2 linked regions of the Homo sapiens genome follow. Changing the gene in region 1 together with any one later gene gives a genetic interaction. Each region holds a gene or a part of one and is shown in the gene's direction. Other genes may lie near its edges.

Region 1 (4,567 bases):
ATTAGTGAGATGGGCGATAGGTTGTGTGGTGGGTAGAATAATGTTTCCTCCTTCACAGATGTCCATGTCCTGAAACCTGTGGCTACGTTATCTTATGTGGCAAAATGAAATTTGCAGATGTGATTAAGGATGATGTGATGGGGGAGATTATCCTGTGGACCCAGTGTAATCATAAGGGTCCTTAAGGGGAGGCATGAGAATCACAGTGATGTAGCATGAGAAAGACTTGACTGGCCAGTGCTAGCTTTAAAGACGGAGGAAGGGAGCTATGAGCCAAAGGATGTGAGCAGCTTGAGCCGGAAAAGGTAAGGAACCAGATTCTACCCCTAGACTATCTGAAAATGAACACAACCCTTCTAACATCTTGATTTGATCCCAGTGAGGCCCATTTCTGATTTCTGCCTTCTGGAACTGTAGATTATAACTTTATGCTGATTTAGGACATCAAGTTTGTGGTAATTTGTCACAGCAGCAACAGGACCCTAATTCAGGTGGGTCAGCCACTATTATTCTATTTACAACCCCCTTCCGTTCTGGCTTTCTTCACAGGGCAATCTAATGTAAACACTTCTGCAGAATTAAAGGGATCTCTTTGCCCACGCACAAACTATTTTTTAGTTTTTCGAGCCTCTACCTACCCTTAGTCTCAAGACAGCTGCCTTTAAGGTAAGCTGCAAGACAATTTATAACATCCTATTCTTAGACTTTCCACTTACACATGGAAAATCATATGCATTATCGGCGTCTGCCACAAAAGCCATGCTCTGAGGTCCTATTCAGGAAAATATTAACTCTGAATTATGGCCTCCCTTTCTTTGGCAGGGGGCACTGAGCTTCACGGAGACCCTAGAGTAGGAATCAACCCTTCAGGTCGAAGGCCCAAGGGAATTAGAGCACTTAGAGCAGGAGACATGGGAAAAGAAAGAGGAAAAGAAGTTGGTAGGTCCGAAGGAGGCTGGAAAGAGGGGAAGGCAAAAGAATACACAACCCAGCCGAATCATGGGAATTGAGAGATGGCTTCCTGCAATCTAGTCTTGCGGGTTCTTGCTCTAGTTTCGGAAACTTCCCCCGCAGAGTCCAGCGCCGCGCACCTGCCCCTTGGGGCCGGTCCCTGCGCAGGAGCCTGCGGCAGGCTGGGAATGCCGTTCTGGGAGAGCAGCCTCCCAGGCGGGGTGGTGGGGAGACTGCAGGGAGGAGTCTTGGGGAGTGCAAACGGAAAGACTACATCTCCCAGGCCGCCACGCTTTCCAGCTGGAGTCCTAGGGCGCTGACTGCTCCCCAGTTTCCGTAGGGAAGCGCTGGGCTACCGCGGCTATTGTGCGTCGCGCTCTCGCCCTCCTCTTCCCGCTGCAGTGTCTATGGAGCGAGGCTACGTTTCATTGCCGCCCTGGCTTAACCCTTCCGGCGCCTAAAAGGACGGCCGGCCGGCCGGCTCCCTTGCACCAGGAAGAAGTCTTAGCAGCCAGCGGGCCCTGGTCAGGAAACTCTAAGGTACAAGGAAAACAGTTGAGGAAGGAGCCAGAGCGCTCCGGTTTGGTCCTCGGGCTTCGCTGGGGCGGGGCGCAGGCGTTGGCTTTAAGAAAGGGGAGGGGACAGTGCAATCCGGGTTGCCCGCGGAGTTCGGCCAAGGAAGTCTTCCGCTCGCTCCGGAGCGAGGAGCCTGTAGAGAGGCTGTTCCCAGCTCCAGCTCTAACCTCGCCTACACCTTGGGCGGGCCCAAGTGTCACGTTTGCAATTGCTCAGGAAGGATCCGGCCCGTCTCCGGAGGCAAGTCGGGCTGCGGTTTTTGCTGCTTATCTGGGAAGGCGATGCCTAAGGGACATGCTGCTTGCTAGGCAGCACCCTGCCGGGATCCGACTGCGATAGTTAGCTCTCCCTGGCCCTGAAGCCATCGCCGGGGCGCCTGTTCTCTGTCCGGACCAGCCAGCGCTCCTCAGGAGTCTCACTGAAACAGGTACCTGTCCTCCAAAGGGACGGAGGCTATGAGCTTCCTTAAGCGGGTCGCGCGCTCAGTCCGTCCCCTCTACTTCCTCTACTGTGCCATTGATGCTCTCGGTCTTTGTGTCTTTCCCCTTTCCCCCTACTCCCGGCCATCAGAACCATGGGTCATCCCCCGCTGGAGTTCAGCGACTGCTACCTGGACAGCCCCGATTTCCGCGAGAGGCTCAAGTGTTATGAGCAGGAACTGGAGAGGACCAACAAATTCATCAAAGACGTAATCAAAGACGGCAACGCGCTTATCAGCGCTATGAGAAGTAAGTGCAAGGCTTCGATGAGCTGTTTCTCTGAGCTGGTGTGTCTGGCCTTTAAGCCTTTCCACACCACCAGGGGAAGGGAGATTGCAGGGTGACTCCCAGCCCAGATCTCTGAGGCAAATGGGTTTCCCACACTTGGGGAGTGGAGATAGTAGAAGTGGAAAGTGGTGGATACAACCAGAACTTTGGGCCTTTTCCTTTAGTGGTTTTGACCTTATAAGACGTGATCCGTAGCTGTGCCAGGGACCCTCTTGCTCAGCAATTACCCTTACTTGGCAGATGATTGTTCTTAAGGGACAATCTGCTGTACTGTTAGACATATTCAGCACCCCTGTCTGGGGCAAAGTGACATCCAAGCTGACCAAGGAACTGCCCCAGCACCTCCTAAACAATTGGGGATTAAGGTCAGCAGCTTGAATAATAATTTTGTCCTGGTCTCTGGTTGCTACAGATAAGTGTGGGGGGCAGTAAAAAATTCGCCATGGCAAGTTATTTTTTAAGGAAAGCACCTTTGCCCCAGTGAATTATTTTCTTTATCACACTGAGCTATGGTTTAGGTCAAGGTCAGTCTAAGTTCAGGATTATTGGATGGCTTCACCTGCCACTGAATTCTGCTTGAGTGTGGAACAAAGAGCTGACTACTTAGTCCCTGCCACAAGGGGCCCAGCCCCCAGGGAGTAAAATAGGGATAGGGTTGGGGGCTGCTGGGCTGAAGGAACTTCACCTAGCTTCGCTTTTCCAGTGCTCACAGCTGACTCAGCTGTGGGAAGCTCTCTCCTTCCCCCATTGTGTGTGGAGGTTTTTTTTCTGCTTGTTGGTAGGAGGCTTGGAGTAAAAGAAAGAATAATAAACATCCCCAACGAGAGTGCAGGCAAGCCAACCCTTTATGCCAAAGCATATACACAGAAGAATGGAGGGTAATGATTGGGTGGAGTGATAATTAATTTTTTCTCTTGGCTGAAAGATGATTGTGAAAAATAAACTCAGAGTCATTGGCAAGTATGTCCTATATGGTTATAACTTTGTTTTGAGTGAATTTATCACCAAATACAGGGTCTAGGACCAGTGTGGCAACCTTCTTAGGCGGATGCAGTCAACCAAGAGCAGGGAGAAAGAAAGATTTGAAAGTGGTAGTGCGAGGCTGGGCGAGGTGGCTCACGCCTGTAATCCCAGCACTTTGGGAGGCCAAGGCGGGTGAATCACCTGAGATCAGGAGTTCGAGACCAGCCTGGCTAACATGGTGAAACCCTGTCTCTACTAAAAATACAAAAAAAAAAAAAAAATTAGCTGGGCATGGTGGCAGGCACCTGTAATTCCAGCTACTCAGGAGGCTGAGGCAGGAGAATCACTTGAACCCAGGAGATGTTGGTTGCAGTGAGCCGAGACCGTGCCATTGCACTACAGCCTGGGCAACAAGAGTGAAACTCCATCTCAAAAAAAGAAAAGAAAGTGGTAGTGTGTTGGTAACTGCTGCCAGCTGGTATTTCTTGTGCAGCCCTTCTGATTTGCCCTGTGGAGTCGGTGCTTTTCCTTCACATGCTCTCTGCCCACTTTTGGTCAGAATATGTACACTGTCGAAGTTCCTGCAGGTCATTTGATTGTGTTTGATCTTTTAATGATTTGTCTTATTGTGGCCTGACCAAGAGTAAACTCCTAGTAGTATCTGAAATGCTGATCCTTAAGAGGTTAAGGATATGCAGGTTGTGCTACATAAGTAGAAAGGTGAGAGTTCACGGAAAGGAAAAGGAGGAATGTTTCAGCTTTGTTTTGTTTTGTTTATATATTACAGTAAACTGCTTGGTGCTGTGTCCCCAGTAAAACGAATCTCATCATAAGCCCTAGGAACAGAATGGCTTTGTGAAGTGGATGGTAACTAAAAGCATGCTAAAAATCACCAGCTAAGGCATATCAGAGAGATTAAGATTTATAAGAAAAAAAGTAGTTCAATAAAACATGGTGGAAGAGCAAAAGTTTCATAAGCTAGGGGCAAGTAAAGGTTTTTATTCTTTCCTTTTCTTTCTTTTTTTTTCAATTTTTGTTTTTGAGATGAAGTCTTGCTTTGTCGCCCAGGCTGGAGTGCAGTGGCATGATCTCAGCTCACTGCAGCCTGGATCTCCTGGTTTCAAGCGATCCTCCTGCCTCATCCTCCCCAGTACCTAGGACTATAGGCATGTGCCACTGCGCCTGGCTAATTTTTGTATTTTTTGGTAGAGATGGGGTTTCACCACGTTAGCCAGGCTGGTCTTGAACTCCTGACCTCAGGTAATCCACCCACCTTGGCCTCTCAAAGTGCTGGGATTGCAGGGATGAGC
Region 2 (3,810 bases), on another chromosome or scaffold:
AATAAGTAATACAGAATGGCCAATGTGGGCTTCACAGGGAGGACAAGGATTTTTTTGGTAAGGGGCTTTTTGGAACCCCTCAAATCAACTGCAGGGCCCTTCCTGGGCATCATGCTACACAAGTAAAAGTCCCTCTACGTTCCAGGATTGTTGGCTCCCTGGGCATCTGGTTGGGGCAAAAAGAAAGATACTGATTTTAAAGTAGAATTATCTTATAAGTAAGAAATTCTAGGCTGGGCACAGTGGCTCACGTCTGTAATCCCAGCACTTTGGGAGGCCAAGACCGGCGGATCACGAGGTCAGGAGATCGAGATCATCCTGGCTAACATGGTGAAACCCCATCTCTACTAAAAATACAAAAAAAATTAGCCGGGCGTGGTGGCGGGCACCTGTAGTCCCAGCTACTCAGGAGGCTGAGGCAGGAGAATGGCGTGAACCTGGGAGGCAGAGCTTGCAGTAAGCCGAGATCGCGCCACTGCACTCCAGCCTGGGTGACAGAGCGAGACTCCATCTCAAAAAAAAAAAAAAAGGGAAATTATAGGCTGGGCACAGTGGCTCACACCTGTAATCCCAGCAATTTGGGAGGCCGAGGCAGGCAGATCACCTGAGGTTGGGGGTTCGAGACCAGCCTGACCAACATGGTCAAACCCCGTCTCTACTAAAAATACAAAAATTAGCCAGGTGTGGTGGTGGGCATCTGTAATCCCAGCTACTCAGGAGGCTGAGGAAGGAGAATTGCTTGAACCCGGGAGGCGGAGATTGCAGTGACCCGAGATCGCGCCATTGCACTCCAGCCTGGGTGACAGAGTGAGACTCCATCTAAAAAAAAAGAAAAGAAAGGAAGAAAGAAATTCCTTGTGACAAAATGTTTAATTTCTGATTATCCTGTTTGTTCTGGGAAAGCAGTCTAATATGATTGTTTAAAGATATAGAATCCAGAGCCAGATAGCCTGGGTTTGAACCCTGGTTTGCTTAGCAGCTGTGTGGCCTTGGACAAGTTACTTACTCTCTGTGCCTCATCAGAAGAATGCGGATGACAACAGATACTTATAGGATTGCTATTCTGATTAAATGAATTGATATATGTAAAGCACATAGAACAGTGCCTAGCCAATACTAAGTAAGGTATAAATGTTTACATAGTTTTTCATATATGCCAAAGTTAAGTTCTTACAAAGTAAAAATTCATGCAGTTTGAACTAATTAAAATTTACTAAACAACTTTTTTTTTTTTAAAATAGGACCAAATAGAAGGAGAAAAAGTACCAAATACTTTGTTCCAAAGTGGTACAAAAGTTCGCTTTCTGCTGAGGCAGGGAGAGGGGTTTTGCTCTGTTGAATACTTGGGAGTCTTGGCTGACTTCCCTTGTGGGTGACACCTTGGCCCTCCTCTGTTCCTATGGGAACTCGGGTGACTTTTGAAACTTTAGCTTCCCCCTCCCTTACTGCGTCCCAAAAGGATGCTTACCTTGCTAAACTTCATGAAAGCCCAATCATGCTTTTTCTCTTCTCTCTTTCTTCTCTTTTTTTCCTTTATCTTCTTTCTCATTTTTTTCCCTTTCTTTCCCTGTCTTTAAACAACAGCAACAAAGAGATCACCAAACATGAACAATTTTAAACTGTTTTGTTATGTAATTCTCCTTAGTGTTATGCTAATTCATTGCGATAATGAGTAACTAGCTAGCTCCCCTCTGAGCTCTTAGCTGAAACCATAGATATGGGCTTGTTTACCTTTTGACCTTTTGTTTACCATTTGACCCTTAAAACTGGCTCTAGAACTTTGTTCTCCTCTTGAGCATTCATTTGTAATTTTAAAACTTGTTTAGCCAAATGGTACTTCTTTTCTAATTGCAGCTGTAAAGAAGAAAGTCCAGCTGTTGTTAAAAAGGAGGAAAAAGTGCTTCATGAATTATTTGGGACGGACATAAGGTGCTGTGCCAGAAATGAACTGGGCAGGGAATGCACCAGGCTGTTCACAATAGGTAACACTATAATATCATGCACTTTCATTTTCAGTGACCGGTTCTTAGCAACTATCAGGGACTAACAGTAACTGCGTAGGTGATCATTCAACTTCAGAAATCCTATCATTCCTTCAGGTCACAGTAAATGCAATATTATGGATTCTGTAAATGCTGATTTCTTCATAAAAGAGGAGTCAGTCTCTAAAAGCTTCTTTTATTAATGTGGTTAGTAATATTTGAGATGATGCTAAAGTCTTTGTTCAGAATGTTCAGGATATCTTTTGTGATGAGGCAAAAATCACTTTTTTTTTCTCACTTGGGATGTTTTCATCTCCTAGATCTAAATCAAACTCCTCAGACCACATTGCCACAATTATTTCTTAAAGTAGGGGAACCCTTATGGATAAGGTGCAAAGCTGTTCATGTGAACCATGGATTCGGGCTCACCTGGGAATTAGAAAACAAAGCACTCGAGGAGGTAATAGGACAAGTTTGTATTCTGAAAATGCAGGAACAATTAACTAATAGTCTGGATTGAAAACATTAAATGCAAACTCTGTTTTATTAAAACCTAGGGCAACTACTTTGAGATGAGTACCTATTCAACAAACAGAACTATGATACGGATTCTGTTTGCTTTTGTATCATCAGTGGCAAGAAACGACACCGGATACTACACTTGTTCCTCTTCAAAGCATCCCAGTCAATCAGCTTTGGTTACCATCGTAGGTAATGCAGGCTGCTCACACAATCTTTATTCCTATTTTTAGTCGCTGTAGTGTGGAATGTGAAGTATGTGGTACAAATTCTGATTTCAATATAATGCTACTATCAAACACTAAGAAAGAAACTGAGTTAGAATAGCTTTGCAAAGATAATCTGCCCACCCTCTTCCTTTTCCCGTTAAACCAGGCTCGCTTGAATGCCACTGTCTTTGCATATAACACATTGTAATATGACCATCTGTTTGTGTACTTTTATCCTCCAGTAGACTGTAAGTTTCTTAAGGACAAGAACAACTCATTCTATCCTTGTAGTTCCAGAACCTGACACAGAGCCTGACACAAAATGGACAATAAATACTAGTTCTAAGAACCAACTAACCGCACTGTTAGGGCAGTGAGCACTGAGAGACAGTACAAGCCCTTAGATGCACTGAAATTTTGGTGGGGTATGTAGGATCTGAAAATAACCACAGTTCAATAATCTCAGATTAGGGCACAGCGTTCAGCCATAATGAAAATGCCGAGAAATACAGCGATGCTCTTAGCAGATTAATAAGGAAGTGTTCCATAAGGCAACCTCGTGAATATTGCTAGCCAGATCGCTCTTTTATTTGTGCCTTGAGTTTATTTTACTCTCTCTCATCAATGGAAGAGTGGTGCTGGCTGAGAGCAGGGGCCAGACAGTCAATTATCTACATCCCATTCTTTTTCTTTCCTTCTTTCTTTTTTTAAACATTTCTTAACTTCGAAAGATGATGAGCTCAGGCTTAGAACTAGGGATAGGACTCCTGGGTTTTCACTTGGATTATCCAACCTGACCTGCAGCATGCCAACACTTGAGTTTTCCTGTGTTAAACTGATGAATACAAGTTTATTTTATCTTCTCAATACGTTTCCCTATGAATATTATTAACTAACTCATAAATGCCTATTTTTTCTTACAGAAAAGGGATTTATAAATGCTACCAATTCAAGTGAAGATTATGAAATTGACCAATATGAAGAGTTTTGTTTTTCTGTCAGGTTTAAAGCCTACCCACAAATCAGATGTACGTGGACCTTCTCTCGAAAATCATTTCCTTGTGAGCAAAAGGGTCTTGATAACGGATACAGGTGAGACC

Evidence for each region.
Region 2: changes in OPHN1 (region 1) and FLT3 together harm fitness less than expected from each alone (positive genetic interaction), as found in Homo sapiens cells (one study listed by BioGRID).

Annotation. Positions count from the first base shown.
Region 1 is NC_000023.11:68,430,555-68,435,121, reverse strand, and holds the start of OPHN1 (oligophrenin-1), read left to right. Parts: upstream 1-1,626; 5' UTR 1,627-1,954; intron 1,955-2,097; 5' UTR 2,098-2,101; coding exon 2,102-2,255; intron 2,256-4,567. UniProt on the Homo sapiens protein: Stimulates GTP hydrolysis of members of the Rho family. Its action on RHOA activity and signaling is implicated in growth and stabilization of dendritic spines, and therefore in synaptic function.
Region 2 is NC_000013.11:28,048,267-28,052,076, reverse strand, and holds part of FLT3 (receptor-type tyrosine-protein kinase FLT3 precursor), read left to right. Parts: intron 1-1,854; coding exon 1,855-1,982; intron 1,983-2,302; coding exon 2,303-2,442; intron 2,443-2,539; coding exon 2,540-2,693; intron 2,694-3,633; coding exon 3,634-3,802; intron 3,803-3,810. UniProt on the Homo sapiens protein: Tyrosine-protein kinase that acts as a cell-surface receptor for the cytokine FLT3LG and regulates differentiation, proliferation and survival of hematopoietic progenitor cells and of dendritic cells.